Linked DNA regions of Homo sapiens: region 2 is linked to region 1. Evidence: fine-mapped expression QTL. Tissue or cell type: cerebellar hemisphere. Region 1 holds a variant in brackets; the other region holds the start of a gene. All regions are shown on one strand. Distances are between the middles of the regions.

The links. PIP is the estimated chance that this variant, and not a neighbour inherited with it, causes the effect.
Region 2: KLHL30 starts here. The variant in region 1 is fine-mapped to the expression of KLHL30 in cerebellar hemisphere (GTEx, PIP above 0.99). The same link has a PIP of 0.9 or more in cerebellum.

Annotation. Positions count from the first base shown.
Region 1 is chr2:238,095,925-238,104,239 of GRCh38, forward strand. It overlaps SCLY (selenocysteine lyase), which reads left to right. Exons shown (of 12, transcript NM_016510.7): 11 at 877-952; 12 at 2,278-3,489. The coding sequence ends at 2,431. ESPNL (espin like) reads left to right here and starts at 4,416. Exons shown (of 9, transcript NM_194312.4): 1 at 4,416-4,789; 2 at 6,017-6,207. The coding sequence starts at 4,496. UBE2F-SCLY (UBE2F-SCLY readthrough (NMD candidate)) reads left to right here. Exons shown (of 19, transcript NR_037904.1): 18 at 877-952; 19 at 2,278-3,489. RefSeq lists enhancers at 256-923, 924-1,592, 1,593-2,260, 2,261-2,929, 2,564-2,858 and 1 more. The variant T/C (reference allele first, on the strand shown) is at 3,638.
Region 2 is chr2:238,133,877-238,142,191 of GRCh38, forward strand. KLHL30 (kelch like family member 30) reads left to right here and starts at 4,792. Exons shown (of 8, transcript NM_198582.4): 1 at 4,792-4,882; 2 at 6,809-7,652. The coding sequence starts at 6,879. RefSeq lists an enhancer at 7,048-7,561.

The DNA of each region.
Region 1 (8,315 bases):
GAGATGGAGTTTCACTCTTATTGCCCAGGCTTGAGTACAGTGGTATGATCTCGGCTCACCACAACCTCCACCTCCTGGGTTCAAGCGATTCTCCTGCCTCAGCGTCCAGAGTAGCTGGGATTACAGGTGCCTGCCACCACGCTGGGCTAATTTTTGTATTTTAAGTAGACACGGGGTGTTGCCATGTTGGCAAGGCTGGTCTCGAACTCCTGACCTCAGGCGATCCACCCACCTTGGCCCCCCAAAGTGCTGGGATTACAGGCATGAGCCACTATGCCCGGCCTTGGCTAATTTTTAAAAAATATTTTGTAGAGATAGGGTTTCCCTGTGTTGCCCAGGCTGGTCTCAAACTCCTGGCTCAAGCAGTCCTTCTACCTTGGCCTCCCAAAGTGCTGGGATTACAGGTGTAAGCCACTGCACCTGGCTGAAATTCTCAGGTTAATTACATCAGCAGTCATTAATGGCTGTGCTTGTGAAAGAAGAGGGAAATGCCTTCTGGCTTAATAGAACTCCCACGTGTCTCTACCATCCAGAACACAGGTGGAGACGTGATATTGCCGGGGCTGCCAGCTTGTAAGGAAGGAGCGGGTCAGGACTCCAGGTGTCTTAGCAGGCAGTTGATTACAAATGCGATTTTCAAGGCCAGCTTTGTGAGGCAGAATAGTGTCTGCGTTTGTGCAGCCAAGGGAGAAAGGAAGCGTTTTCTTCGGCTCCTGCTGTGAGATCTCTCCCCAGCTGCCAGAATGGCCAGTGCTGGAATTCCACCAGGTGGCACAGAGGGAGGGAAGCAGCCTGCGCCCAGCAGGACCCCGGGAAGGGACAGAAGGGCAACCTGGCTGGAGCCCCATCTCAGGGGCATGTGCTCTGTCTCCGCAGGCCACGTGGTGCTTGCGCAGTGCCGAGTGCTGATGGCCAGTGTGGGGGCCGCGTGCCACTCGGACCACGGGGACCAGTAAGTGCTCTTCACAAACCCAGTCCAGGGCATAGGGGTCCTCCGGGCACTGGGTGTGGTGGGCAGGCGGCAGGATCCGGCCACTGGGCCGCACTCTGGCTGGTGAAGGACAGCCCTGTCTGGGCCCTAGGAGGGGCAGAGGGAGGGCTTCCTGGAAGAAGTGACTTCCAAGCTGCCATCTGAAGGACTAGGACTTGTGCGGGAGAAGAGGGCTTCTCGTGCTCAGTTCTGAAGGCGGAGGGAGGGCAGGGCCTGGAGGGCCAGCGTGGCCGGGGCTGGGGAGGGCTGGGGCGGGCTGGGGTGGGCTGGGGTGGGGATGGCCTGAGTGTCAGTGCTTACTTAAACCTCATGGAAGTGGGAGCCCTGAGGGCCATGGTGTGAGCAGACTCAGGTGTCAGATCAGCCATCTGCAAGATGCAGCAGAGATTCTCAGATAGCAGGGCCCGGGTGAGCGGGTGGGCTGCCTGGCGGAGACTGTGGGGTAGAGGGCGTGGGGTGCCCGAGCAGCGGCCTGCTGGCAGCAGGGGAGAAGTGGTTCTGGGTCTGGTCTGCTGAAAACGTGAGGCCCCTGTGGGAGGTCGGAGTGGACGCAGGAGGAACACTCAGGGTTCTGGGGAGAGAGCGGAACTGTAGCCAGCAGCACGTGGCCATCAAGGTCAGGGCAGAGGGATTGTGCAGGAGCACCTGGAGCGAGACAGTGGTGGGCCTGGCTCCAGGGAAAAGGAGGGGCAGGATGGGGCCCTTTGTTGGGGGGACAGTGCCCTGCTGCAGGAGGGGCAGGGGAGGAAAGGGACCCGGGTGTGATGAGGTCAGGCCCCTTGACAGAGCCCACATCTCGAGCCTCCAACAGCCTTGCTTCAGGATGTCCCCACGCAGTCATCTGTTCATGGCTAGATACTGACTGGGTCCCTAGTGTCTGCAAAGCCCCATGCTAGGTGCCATGAAGTTACCAAGTGGCTCAGGTGGGCCGCATGGGTAAGGCACTGTCTGTGTCGGCATCCGTGTTCTCCAGGACCTCAGACCCCTCAAGGACAGGAGAGCCCCTGGCCCCAGAGCTCAGTGCGAGAGGGAGGCAGTGTCACCTGGGAGTGCCAAGTGCAAGAGAACTCTGCAGGGAGAACGGGGGCGACTTTGAGCCACACCTTGATGTGGGTGATCTTAGGGGTGTGCTTGGTCTGGGAGTTTAGCAGGAGGTGGATGCCAGGCGAGGCAGGCGCACATCCGGGTGGGCAGAGCCCCACTAGGGGAGTGGTCCAGAGCAGGGGGGGCTGTGTCTCTTCCATGTGCCCTCAGCAGCAGCTGCAGCTCGGTCTCGCCCTCCCCAGGCCGTCCCCAGTGCTGCTGAGCTACGGTGTCCCCTTCGACGTGGCCAGGAACGCGCTCCGGCTCAGCGTGGGCCGCAGCACCACCAGGGCCGAGGTGGACCTCGTCGTGCAGGACCTGAAGCAGGCCGTGGCGCAGCTGGAGGACCAGGCCTAGCACTGGGGCCGCCTTCCCCACCCCGCTTCTGGGAAGCCCGTGGCAGGGCACAGGGTTGTCCCTCCAGTTCCCTCCTGAGGGCTGTGCCAGGATGACTGTCTCATGCCCCCTCTGCATTTTGTCCTGGAGTGCCAGCGAGTGTGCACCCCCAGTTTCCTTCCCTGGACCCCTGCAGAGCTCACAGGGCCCAGGACACCAACGCCGCATAGGACTGCCCACATGGGACCGCCCACATAGGACCGCCCACATAGGACCGCCCACATGGGACCGCCCACATGGGACCGCCCACATGGGACCGCCCACATAGAACCGTCCTCCAGTGGTGAAGCGGAAACACTTAGCTTTATCCACCCTCCCCACTGGGAACTGGGCACGCCTGTTGTGAGTGCCCTTTCCTGGAAGGTGTTTTTATCTGGAAGATAGAATCCAAGTATTTATAACTCATTGTCAGCCAAATGCTATCATGAACGTAGGAAACTTGATTTTTTTGTTTTGATCATGGCCTCTACATGCACCTTTCCAGAGTGGTCTCTTCTCAGGCCCTTTTTAGTCCCTTTCCAAAGCTGCCCCCACCACCCTGCTCCTCTGGCCTCAGTGCACAGTGGCCCCCAGCCTCGGCCAGGCCTGCTCTGCTCAGCGCCCACCGCCCACCACCCCTCCTGCTTCCCCGAGCCTGACCCTGTTCCGCCCACTGGCAATCAGGGCTGCGCACTTCCCTGTCCACGGTCCCCAGGCCTTCCTGTCTTGTCCCTTTTGATCATTATTAACTCAGGGTTTCAGCTCCAACCTCGCTGAGTTGGTGCAGCTCCAGGTCATTCCTGGGGTGGGAATCGGATCATCCCTGACTCAGCTTTTACCTTAATTTTATTTGCAGAGGATTCTTTTCTCAAAATGCTCTGGCATTTGGACACACATCACATGTCGATATTTGCATAGGAGTCATTTTCAGTGGAATAACATTTTTAATGTGTGGTTTTACGGTTCAAGGAACTACTTGATGATTTTGAGGAAACACTTGCCAGAAACTAAATTAACGAATAAAAGATTTCAGTGCCCGACTTGGGGATCCTGTGGTTTCTCTAGTGGGCACTGCGCTTGGGCACAAAGTCATCTGACAGAGCCTGTCGGGGGGAAGCCAGGGGTGCAGCAGCCCCCAGGTCACCATTGTGTGATGATGCGTTAGCCCAGAAATCCAGCTTGAGGCTG[T/C]GTCTCCGGAAGCCCCTACAAATGTAATGGGTCCCCCATCTGCAGCTTCCCATTGCTGCCAGGAAGAGGCTGTGGTGGTCCTGACTTCCCTAAAGAAGAACTATGGATTGTCCAGAACAATCTGGAAAGGGGTTAAATGTACTTGGGCCCTTGGGGCTGCAGCCCAGAGACTTGGTCCGTGTAGTTGGAGAGGGGGCCGAGGCAGGGGCTGACACCTTCTCGCCTCAGAGGCCTGGACACACCCAAGTCAGGGTCCTGAGCCCATTGCAGGCCCCGTGGAGCCACTGTGTCCCCAGAGATTCCTAGGAGCCTCCAGGGCCGAGGGCCGGGACCCAGAGGCGGGGCGCTCAGCTCTGTGGGTGTCAACACAGCCAAACATGTAGACCTACTGGGCACCCTTTACTTCAGACACACTGTGGTGGCGGCTGGGGGTCTGCCCTTCTGTGAGAGTTGGGGGAACTGTCTCCCAGGCCACTCGGGGCTCCTGTGAGAAGCTCAGTGGCGTGTATCCTCAGCCCTCGCTCCACAGATGAAGTTCCTGCCATCTGGACAGATCTGAGCAGCCTCAGGGCCAGCCTCCTTTCTCTGCTGGCCATACCCAGCCCTGACCTAGCCTGGTGTGGGCCTTTCCCTGTGCCCTGTACTCCATCCTCCCAGCTCCAGGCACCTGGCACCCTCACACTGTGGGAGTGGCTTGGGCAGGTCCTCAAGGCCTGTCCCCCCACCCGACCCCACCCCACCGCCTCCCATCTGCCCTGTGGCAGCTTATCGGGTAACCAGAGCCGGCAGCTTCATCCACGTCTGAAACAGGAAGCCCCAGCCTGTGCATGAGTCGCCACTGAGAGCCCGGGCCAGAGGATGGAGAAGCAGCGGGCACTCGTGGCCGCCAAGGATGGGGATGTGGCGACGTTGGAGCGGCTGCTGGAGGCTGGCGCCCTGGGCCCGGGCATCACCGATGCTCTGGGGGCCGGCCTGGTTCACCACGCCACCCGGGCTGGCCACCTGGACTGCGTCAAGTTCTTGGTGCAGCGGGCCCAGCTGCCCGGCAACCAGCGGGCCCACAACGGGGCCACCCCAGCGCATGACGCCGCTGCCACGGGCAGCCTGGCCGAGCTGTGCTGGCTGGTCCGCGAGGGGGGCTGCGGTCTGCAGGTGAGCGGGGATGGGGCAGCCTGGCTCCACGAAGCTGGCTGGGGTGGAACCAGGGAGGTGTGAGCCACGGAGGATCAGAGTACTGGCCACCCCGGGCTCCATGGCCCTGGGCCCTTTGTTTCTCTTGGGGACTCAGTCAGTGGTTACCGTCTCTGCCCCACGCCTCTCAGAGCACAAAGGCTTGAGAGCCAAGAACACCTCCTAAATTTTCTTATCACCTTCCCTGCCAGGAAGCTGGGCGTTGCCAGTGGGGGTCTTGCCAGATATCAGGACCCCTGTCTCTGATCAGGCCTGGTCCACAGGGCCTGCCTCCCAAAGGGTCTAGAAAGGGATCCTTACAGAAGCACTGTGGGAACTTGGGCTTGAGAGCTGGGAGCCTAGCCCTGGGGGACGGGAGTTAGGGCTGCTGATGGTGATCGTCTTGTCCGGATCGTTTCTACTGGGCCCCCCTCCCCTATCCTGCCTGCCCAGTCCCCTTTGTGCAGGCGAGGCCCTTAGAGCTGTCGCTCAGCCCTGTGGAGCTTTCAGGGCTGAGGGTGAGCAGGACTGACCGGCCTTAGAACGCCGCCGCCCAGAGGTCAGAGTTGAGGTGGGGGCCGGTGGGGCCTGCTTAGACTGCGGAGCGGGAAGGTTCCCCAGCACCTGGCTCGCCAGAGCACCTGAGAGTCCCGGCCCAGCATCCTGTTCCTGTCGGCCCTTCCGCCAAACCCAAGGGCAGCAGGCGGGAGCTGTGCCTGCCTGGGGATCCATTCTGACAGGGCCCTTGGAGAAGGCCCAGGTCTGCTGGACCCCTGACACCTGTGGTAGGAACGCTCCCTGGCCCCGGGACCCTGTGGCCAGCGGGAGGGCACTGGGGCAGGGGACCAGCCAGAGGTAGGTGTCCTGGGAAGCCTTTCTGACCATGAGCAGAGTGGGCAGGTGTCTGCGGGCACCCGACTGCGTGGGAAAGGGCCTTCTCCACACTGGGGACGGGCCCAGGAGAGGGCAGGGTTGCCAGAGGTGGCCTCCCAAGACCTGGACCTGAGTCCTGGCCCTCCTCTCACCTCAGTCCCAGCAGGGAGCACCTCCCTCCATGTTGCAGGCAGAAACGGAGGGAAGGAGGAAGGAGCTGGAAGCCCCTTCACTGGGTTGCAGGCAGTGTGAGCCCTCGCCCAGGGCCCACCTCCGGCAGCTGGCTCTGACCTCACGGCCTACCCCCCACTCACTGACCTACCCGGGGCTTGGTAGGACCAAGATGCCTCGGGCGTCTCCCCGCTGCACCTGGCCGCCCGTTTTGGACACCCAGTGCTGGTGGAGTGGCTGCTCCACGAGGGCCACTCGGCCACGCTAGAGACCCGGGAGGGAGCCCGGCCGCTGCACCACGCTGCCGTCAGTGGGGACCTGACCTGCCTCAAGCTCCTGACAGCCGCGCATGGCAGGTAAGGAGCCCAAAGTCCCGCCTGGGGGGGCAGCCTGGGGCGAGCTGGCCAAGGGGAGGCTGCACCATGGAGGGCCAAGAGGACAGGCTGGTGGCCTTTGAGGTGAATCCTGCAGGCGGGCATGCTGTCACTGTGGGGGTGAGCTGGCAGGAGCCAAGGGCAATGAGGCCTCTACCCACAGGCCAGGCAGTGGCAGTGCCATGCCAGGGCCCAAGGGGACACAGGCCAGTGCTTCAGCTTGGAGAGTGGCTGGGGGCGGTGACGATGGCAAGATGCTGCTGTGATGCCCAGGGCAGCTCTGGCCCCACCTGGGGGCATCTCGGGACCTAAAACAGCTGGGGACGTGGGCAGCTGGCAACCTGTGAGGGCACCCTCCCATCACCTGACAGGAGTGGGGACTGTCTAGTGGACTTGGGGACACAGAGGCTGGAGCTGCCTCTGCACTGCCCCACCCCTGTGCTGGGACCCCTAGAGCCGGGCGCTGGCCTCATCGTCTCTGGGGCCCTGTGCCCCCTGCTGGAATTAGTGGATGGGCAACGAGGAAGGACCAGGGTCAGGACAGCCAGTAAGGCAGATGGCCTCCCTCCCCACCTGGAAGCTCCTCCAGTCCTCGCCCTGCTTACAAAGGTCACTGTTGTCATAGGAACAGGCCCTCTGCCTCCTACTGTCTTGGCTGAGGGCGAACCTTCCTGTCCCCCAGGGACCCACCTACCTCTGACCACGGCTCTTCTCTTTTCGAGGCAGCATCTCATTTTCCTGTCGCTGCCCCAGAGGCCTCAGTCCCCCACACCCCCTTAGCTCCAGGACAAGCCCCGACAGCTTGCTTGTGGAATCGGGTTCTCATTCCCGGGTGTTCCCATCCTGGACTGCTTGGCAAAGGCCTTTGGGATTCGCTTCTGTGGCTTTTCTCCAGAGCGTCCACACCACCCTCAGCCTTGGCTGGCCACAGTCTCTCTCAGACCCACACGGCTTTTAAAGAAGTTTCCACCATTGAAAACTGGGAGACTTGGGCCGAGCACAGTGGCTCATGCCTGTAATCCCAGCATCTTGGGAGGCTGGGGCTGGAGGATTGCTTGAGCCCAGGAATTCAAGACTGGCCTGGGCAATGTAGCGAGACCTCCATCTCTACAAAAAAATTTATTTAAAAATTAGCCAGGCATGGTGGTGACTGCCTGTAGTCCCAGCAACTCAGGAGGCTGAGGTGGGAGGATCACTTGAGTCTGGGAGGCGGAGGTTGCAGTAAGCTGGGATTGTGCCACTGCACTCCAGCCTGGGCGATAGAGCAAGACCATGTCTCAAAAAAAAGAAGAAAACCAGGAGGCTTCATGTTAATATGCACACACACACGCACACACGCACACACAAATGGGAAGGTCCTGTACCCCCGGCCTAGTTCCCGCCTGGCATTGACCAGCAGCAGCCGAGAGGTGGCTGCCCCTGGCCAGACCATGCCCCCTCCAGTTGCCCCCGACCCACTGGCTGCATCATGGCCTGCTCCCAGCCACCGCGCTGGACACCACCTGTTCCAACCCTGGATGCAGTCAAGGACACCTGGCAGAGTCTGGTGAAAGCACGGATCCTCCCCTGAGAAGGGCACCAAGGCATACTGGCAGCCCTTTGGGGCACATTCCATGAGGGAGTGGACCCTCAGGCTCTGCAGGTGCAGGGGACGATCCCTGTGTGGTCCAAGGCCAGAAAGCAGCCACCAAGGTCCTGTGTCCCCCTTGCTAGGAGCAGGGGAGAGGCTGCTAGGGGGCTGGTACTGGGGGACTTTGTGAGGGGAGGGGAATTCAAACCCAGGTGCAAGTCCCTGGACAAATCAGCTCCCAGCCTCTGTTTCCCCTCTGCCAGCTGAGGCCTGTGACTGGACTCTCCTCTGGGGTGGACACTGAGTTGCTCAGATTCGTCTATCAGAAGTGGGGAGCAGGTGTGGGGGTGCTCGTGAGATCCCTTCATTACTCCTCAGCTTCCCCTCCTGAGAGGGGAAGGGCCCGGAGGTGGAGGGTCTGGGACAGGGTGGCGTGGTCAGCAGGCTTGGCGGGAAAGCAGGCACGAGCCCGAGAGTTGACCCTCCCCGGTGACTTTGGCCCTGCCTCCACGCCGCCACT
Region 2 (8,315 bases), 38 kb after region 1:
GGAGCATCCTGAACGCTGCCTCTCAGTCAGTGGGGCCCTGGCTCTTGGCCACAACACGCCCCCAGTGGAGACAGAGCAGGGCTGCTCCACCCAGTGCGGTCACTGCCCAGGGCTGGCAGAGGGCAAGGGGCAGCAGGTGGGTCTAGGGAGAGCCCTTGGCTGGGGGCATCAGAAGGTTTGGGCGCTGCAGTGTCTCCTGAGATCCCCTCATGCACCAGCTGCTGGCAATGTTGTTCTGAGGGCCCTGACAGAGGAGGGGGCTGGAGGCAGGGGCAGCAGGCCTCAGGTCACTCCCTGGCCGAGGGTGCTCAAGAGAGAGCACTGGGCAGGGAGTCGGCCCTCCTGGCTCCGGCTGTCCCTGCCCACTCGCTATGCCCTTGGGCAAGTCCTCCATAGCCTCCAGGCCTCAGTTTCCCAGCTGAGGAGCTGGATCAAGGCCAGCAGGGGACACACACATCAGGGGTCCCAGGAGAGCCTGGGGTGGGATGAGCCAGGCGAGGGGTGAGATGTGGCTCAGATCCAGGCTAGGCCCCTGGAGTGCTGCTGGGGTGACCCCTAAATGACCTTCTGCCAACACCCTGCCTCTGGGGGAGCTGCCCCAGGGATTCTGATTCCCTTGGCCTGGGGTAGGTCTGGAAAGCTGGGGTTTTAACACATTCCAGGCGGCTCCGATTCCCAGCAGCTGGCACCCGTGGCCCACCAGCAGCTCACCTGTGGGAAGCACGTGTCCCCGGGGGCAGGCAGGCACTGGCCCCTGCGCCACCACACTCACAGCTGTAGGGCCCATTTGGTGCCTATAAATCTGTTGTTCAATTGACAAAAGACTCACTGAGGACCAGAGACGGAATCTACAGCACCCCGGAGGTGCCGATGTCAGTGAGGTGGTCACACGCAAAGCAAAGGCGCAAAGCCTGGGGGCTTCCCATGAGTCAGAAACATCCAGGAGAAAGGGAGCCCCGTGTCCCCAGTCCATAGATGGCAGGATGGAGATGTGGAAAAACAGAAACCCTCCCCAAGGGCGGTGCTGGAACCCCAGCTTCTCCCTCGCAGCTGGGTCAATGTGCAGAGGGGCGGGCTCCCTGCATGTCGGTGCACAGGCTTAATGCAAAGCCCAGCTCATTTAAAAATTCAATGTCGGCCGGGTGCGGTGGCTCACGCCTGTAATCCCAGCACTTTGGGAGGCTGAGGCAGGTGGATCACGAGGTCAAGAGATCAAGATCATCCTCGCCGACATGGTGAAACCCCGTCTCTACTAAAAACACAAAAATTAGCTGGGCGTGGTGGCGGGCACCTGTAATCCCAGCTACTCGGGAAGCTGAGGCAGAATTGCTCGAACCTGGGAGGCAGAGGTTGTAGTGAGCCGAGCTCATGCCACTGCACTCCAGCCTGGGTGACAGAGCAAGACTCTGTCTCAAAAACAAAAAAGATTTTCAATTTCATCTCAATAGGATGACGTTGCTCTTTGTGAAGCTGGGAGTGATAACCTCCTTCTGTTCGTGGACGCTCAGGCTGTTTTCCATTTGGGACTATTACAATGAAGGTGGTGTCACCTGTGTGATTATTCCCTCAGAATGGATTCCGAGCGTGAAATCACCGAGTTAAAATCTGTAAGGCCGGGTGCAGTGGCTCACGCCTGTAATCCCAGCACTCTGGGAGGCCAAGGCAGGCAGATCACTTGAGGTCAGGAGACCATCCTGGCCAACATGGTGAAACCCCATCCCTACTAAGAATACAGAAAAATTAGCTGGGCATGGTGGTGCATACCTGTAATCCCAGCTACTCAGGAGGCTGAGGCAGGAGAATCGCTTGAACCCAGGAGGCGGAGGTTGCCGTGAGCGGAGATTGCACCACTGCACTCCAACCTGGGTGATAAAGCGAGACTCCATCTCCAAAGAGACAAACAAACAAACAAACAAAAAACTGTGTGAGTGAGCTCCCCTCTGCTGGGCTGGGGGCCTTCCAGCTGTGAGGATGTCCCAGGCTGGGTCCGCATATCAGTCTGCCCCCTTCTCGGGGGCCTTACAGCCCTGCACAGCACCTCTCACTCCATCTGGGGTGATTTGGGGCCTGGGTTCCATCGGGCTGACCTTGTTTCCCTTTCACCAGCACTCTCACACGTCAGACGGCCCCTCCTTCCCTGCGGACTTGCCGTGGCACCGCTTTCTGTGCATTGGCTGTTGGGATTTGTTTATTCTTGGGTCAAAACCACCTTGTTTGATGGCATTTTACGCTGTAATGATGACATCTTCGTATCTGAGATGGAAGCCCCCCATTGCTCTGCTGTTTACATGTTTTTGTCTGCTGTACTAGTGACCTAGTGCTGCATAGTCAACTGCCTGAAATCCAATGTCCTTGAACAGCACACACGCATGGTCACACGCATCGTCTCTCAGTTTCTCCTCGGGAGCACGTGTGTGGGGTGGCTGCACCTCAGGATGTCTCAGGAGGGTCCCATGAAGTGCTCAGCCCAACTGCAGTCATCGGAAGCCTGGCCTGGGGCGGGAGGGTCTGCGGGCTGGGACTATAGGTGTGCACCGCCACTACTCCTGGCTAATTGTTGTGTTTTTAGTAGAGATGGGGTTTCACTATGTCGGCCAGGCTGATCTCAAACTCCTGACCTCAGGTGATCCACCCGCCTCAGCCTCCCAAAGTGCTGGGATTACAGGCATGAGCCACCATGCCCGGCAGAAATTCAAAATCTTCAAGTGCTGATCCCATCAGAAACGCCCACAATATAACAAGGTGTGAGGAAAGGGCGCTGACCCACACACGCAGGCAGGCTCATTTTGACAACAGGAAAGAGCTGGAAGCATACTAATGGCAAATGATCTTTTACTAATGACACTTTCTGCTTTTTATTTTTCTGTTTTCCAAAAGGAACTTGTGTTATTTTTATCCTCATAAAAAGAAACAAGTGGTGTATTTTTAAAAACTGCGCCACTCAGTAGCAATCTCTTGATGGAGGATCTGTTTTGCGCCCCCGGTGTTGAGTTTCCCAGACTGACCTGTCATCTGAGGTGCTGGGGCTCCGAGCCCCACGACGGCTGCTGTGAGGCCTCCACACTTGGCAAGCAGTGCTGTTCCCCGAGCAGAGCCAGCTCCCCGTGACAGCAGCCTGTCATCAGAATCCCCTGTCCTCATTTCCTCCAGCCCGAGCCAGGACTGCAAACAAGGGGGACAGTACGGAAACCCAACACTCTAGCGCCCACCCCATAGTGGTCCTGGACACAGCGAGAGTTGGGGTCCTCCATGAGGGTCCCCCACACAACATGAGGCTGATGCCCAAGGCTGGGGAAAAACCCTGGGACAGTGTGGGACACGAGCAGGGGAAAGAGCAGGAGCAGGGGCCAGGCTGGGCTGGGCTACGGCTGGGCTACGGCTGGACTATGGCTGAGCTGGGCTGGGCTATGGCTGGGCTATGGCTGGGCAATAGCTGAGCTGGACTGGGCTATGGCTGGGCTATGGTTGGGCAATAGCTGAGCTGGACTGGGCTATGGCTGGGCTATGGTTGGGCAATAGCTGAGCTGGGCTGGGCTATGGCTGGGCTATGGTTGGGCAATAGCTGAGCTGGGCTGAGCTATGGCTGGGCTATGGCTGGGCCAGGCTGGGCTGTAGAGGAAGCATGGACTCAGGGAATCTCTATGGAAGGTAACCCTAAGGGCACCTTGCAGACTTGGCAGTAATTTGTAGGTGAGCTTCCCCTCCATAGGCTGTGTGCATCTCAGGACCAGGAGTGGGGTTCTGTCTCCCTGGGGGCCGCCTGGACCTCTCTGGTCTGTAAGAGCATTAGGACAATCCCTAGTAGCATCAAGAGGCCACAGCCAGACCCAATACTCCCCAGTTCCTCCAGGTCGCAGCACACCTGGAAATGGTCATACTGCTCAGGCCCACATGGCCGATGGGTAGAGGGCTGAGGGCTGAGGGCTTCTCTCCCATGCACCTGAAGTCCCTCAGCCACAAAGCTCTGCTCTGGTCACTGGTGTGAGAAATGTCCAGTGGCCTCTTGGGTCCCCAACTCAACCCACCTGACCTTGGTCAGGGCCTGTGGTTCTGAGCCCATTTCAGTCCCAGGCGTGAGAGCTTCCCCCTGCGACTACCGTGAACCAAGTGCTGGACGGGAGGCTGATAGTCCACTGCTGTATTTTTAGGTGACCCTGTTTCTTAGCCGTCCTGGGCAGCCCCGAGGCCAAGGCCATGGGGTAGCAGGGCAAGGAGCCCCAAGATCTCCCCTATCCACGCTAGCTGGGCGGGGCAACTGAGTGTGGCACCTCCCCTCTCTGGGCAAAGTTTCCCTACCGCCACCATGGACCCCAAGCTCGGAAAGCCTCTGCTGACCAACCTGTGCTTATTCATGATAATCACGTTTTCCCACGTGACAACAGAACAAGAGGACACATAGGTGCCGCTGACATCAACAGCGAGGGCAGCACCTGTCGGTGTCCTGGCCCTGGGCTGAGGGTCTCTGTGACCCCAGGCCCCCACCACGGGCTCCACTGTACTCAACTTGTAGACGAGGAAACAGGTGGGGAAGCTGCATCCCTGCCCCCACCAGCCAGCCCAACCGCGACAGCTTTCACCTGTCCTTGCCCTGGAGCCCTTCCTGATGTCTGTCCTAGGCCACAAGTCCCTGGAAGGCCTCAGTGGGCTTTCTGAGCTAACAGTCACCAAGGAGCCGGCATCTCACTCCTTCCCCCACCAGCCCAGCCCTCACTGCCTGACCCTCCCCTCGCCCTGCAGACAGAGGCTAAAAATACCCTCCCCACGTGGCCACCAGACCAGCCCTGCCCCGCCCTGCAGGCCTCCGTGTCCCCTGGCTGCCGGCTAGGCAGTCCTGCTCTCTCGGGTCTGTGTTCTCAGCTTCGAGGTCCAGGCTGAGTGAGAGGTAGGATCCAGGGGGCTCTGGGGCAGGGGACAGCAGAGAGGGCAGGGGGAACCCAGCCAGGAGCAGCGGGGAGGGTGGGTTAGGCCCCCGAGGCCAGGGATCACAGCAGGGTGCTTTGGAGACGCCCCCTGGCCCTTGCCAGCGGCCAAGCCAGGCTCCTCAGGGTGGGGGCTCAGGAGACAGGTTTCCCTCCATGTCCCAGCCGGAGAGGTGGGAGGGGGAGGCTGGGCCACCCCTCAGATGGCAGCCAGGGCCACTCAGCCACAGTCGCCAGCCTGGCTGGGCTCAGGCCTTTTGTTGTCCTGCCCACTCGGCTTCCTCACTCCGGGCCTGGGCAGGCACTGGGGTGAGGCTCTGAGACCCTCAGGAAGCCCCGACCCATGCAGGGACTGCAGGGTGACAGGTGTCAGCAGGCACCCCGAGGCCCCCAGGGGAAGTGGGGGCGCTCATGCGTGCCTGCCCATCGCCCGGCAGCAGCTGGCCCAAGGGAGCACAACAATGACGGGAATGTGAGGCCTGCAGGCGGTGGCCCAGGGACAGCCCTGTCACCTACTCAGGCCCCAGCTCATCTCCCGGCTGCCCAGGGAGGGCAGAGCCGCCTTCACCGGGGCCAGCGCCTCCTGGGGAGGGGCCAGGCAGGAACCCCATGCATGCAGTGTTGGGTGGGTACTTCGTGTACCGGCCGGGATGCTGGGGTGTGGGGCCCCGGCCACGTGAGCTGCCCTGTGCGCGAGCCCGGGTTGGTCCGCGAGGCCCTGTGGGCTCCCAGGTGCTTCCCCGCTCTGGGGTCAAGAGGTGGCACCGGGGTCGGGAAGTCGGGGAGCCCTAGCTCCCATCGCCTGCACCTGTACCTGCACCGTGGCTGCCCGGGCCAGATTCTTGGCCTCCTGGTTCTCCAGCTGAGCTTTGTCATTTCCATGCGTGGCGTTCCCACGCATTTTGTACCTGTGGACGCGCGGCCGCCTCTCCTGCCCGGGATGGCCCCGCGAGGCGCCCCCTAGCGGGCGAACGGCCTCTCCGCTGCGCAGCCTTTCGCCCTGGGGTGACCCGGGTCGAAGGCTTGTGCACAGACTTGATCTCTCCTAGGGATGGTTGTCTTAGGGTGCGATACCAGAAGGACATAAACCACATGCACATAATTACATGAGCCTGAAAGCGGCCTTGCTGACTTCAACCATGCGGGCGTGGTGACGCGAAACCCTCCAGAACGCTGCCTTTGGCTGGCCGTTTCTGTTTAGCAGCCTCCACCCGGCCACGTGGAATGCAGGGTTCAGAGCCTGGGCCCCCAAGCCTAGCTCTGAGTTCAAATTCCAGCTCCACCACTTCCTAAATGTGTGATCTTGGGCAAGTGACTGAAACCTTCTGTGCCTCAGTCTCCCCAGCTGTAAAAGAGGCAATGATTGCACCCACCCTCCAGGACTGTTGTGGGGCTGAGTGGTGAATGCACAGCTTCTCTGCATGCTTGGCACGTGGCCTGGCACCTGGGAGCACCGCGGGAGCAGGAGCTGCTGCAGCCCCCAAATGGCCTCCCCAGCAATGTGGGATCTGGGACGGAGGACGCCTCCCGGGAGTTTGGGTGTCTCCGGGGTCCCTGGGGGGTGGGCTCAGTGTAGCCCAGGGTTGCAGATGACACCCAGGGCATGGGTTCTTTTGCCAACCCTGTTCTGCCCTGAATGCCTGGCCATGGGTAGGTCTCCCACCCTCTCTGAACCTCAATTTCCTCACTGCAAATGGGAATGACACCTGCCCTACCTTGCAGGGTTCTGGGGGTGGCTTGAGGCAGATGGGGGGTAAAGTGACTGGCATATGGTCGATGCCCATCCTGTGTTTATCAAGGGGTGGAAAGGGCTGATGGACAGACCGGGTGGGTTGCTCAGGAGGATGAGACCATCCCCACTTGGCTGACCCTGCTCTCTTCTCTCCTAGGAGCTCGGGCGGCTCCAGGCACTTCTTCCCTTGAGTGGGTGGACTACTGAGGTCCCCTGGGCACGGCGTCATGGTGCGGAACGTGGATGACCTGGATTTCCACCTGCCCTCGCATGCCCAGGACATGCTGGATGGCCTGCAGCGCCTGCGCTCTCAGCCCAAGCTGGCCGACGTCACACTGCTGGTGGGCGGCCGGGAGCTGCCATGCCACCGCGGCCTCCTGGCGCTCAGCAGCCCCTACTTCCATGCCATGTTTGCGGGTGACTTCGCCGAGAGCTTCTCTGCGCGCGTGGAGCTGCGGGACGTGGAGCCCGCCGTGGTGGGACAACTGGTGGACTTCGTGTACACAGGCCGGCTGACCATCACGCAGGGCAACGTGGAGGCGCTGACACGCACGGCTGCGCGCCTGCACTTCCCCTCGGTGCAGAAGGTCTGCGGCCGCTACCTGCAGCAGCAACTGGATGCCGCCAACTGCCTGGGCATCTGTGAGTTCGGGGAGCAGCAAGGGCTGCTGGGCGTGGCTGCCAAGGCCTGGGCCTTCCTGCGAGAGAACTTTGAGGCTGTGGCACGTGAGGACGAGTTCCTGCAGCTTCCCCGAGAGCGGCTGGTCACTTGTCTGGCCGGCGACCTGCTGCAGGTACAGCCGGAGCAAAGCCGACTCGAGGCCCTGATGCGCTGGGTGCGCCATGACCCGCAGGCCCGGGCCGCCCACCTGCCCGAGCTGCTCAGCCTAGTGCACCTGGACGCCGTGCCCAGGCCCTGCGTGCAGCAACTGCTGGCCTCAGAGCCCCTGATCCAGGAGTCAGAGGCATGCCGGGCAGCCCTGTCCCAGGGCCATGATGGGGTGAGTGAGCGGCTGGGAGGCCCCATCCCTGGGAAGCAGGGAGGAGAGCCCCAGAGACCCCACCTGAGTAGGGACAGAGTAAGGAGTGGACATTCCAAGGTGCACTCTGACCTTGCCACGCTCCTTGTTTTGGGCCAGTTCCCCATGAGGACATCACTATTCAGCCCTCAAGTGCAGATCATGCCTCTGTGTGTGTCACGCCCTGTGTGCAAGGGGCAGGGGAATGTGGAAGTGGTAAGATCTGGCCCTGTCCTGAAGGAGCCTGCAGCTCAGTGGGACAAGCCTGGAAACAGACCTCAGGCAGTGTGGAAGGGCCAAATACATGCCTAGGACGCATTCTGGGTGGGCTGGCAGTCAAGGAGGGCTCTCTGGAGGAGGCAGCATCTGAGCTGGGCCTTAGAGGAGGGATAGGAGCTCACAAGGAGGAAAAGAGGGGAAAACCATCCAGGAAGGAGGTGCAGCTTGTGCACAGGCAAGGAGGCACAGACAGGCCTGGCAGTCCGCCTGAGCTTTTATGGGGTGCTACTTCCTGTTTGTGCTGGCAGTGTGCCTGGCAGGCATGGCAGGTCATGATGGAATGACAGGTCTGGGAGTGGCTGTTCGGTCAGCTGCCGGGCACCCTGCTCAGGGGCCTTGCTTCGGGGCACTCCTTTAGAGCCAAGT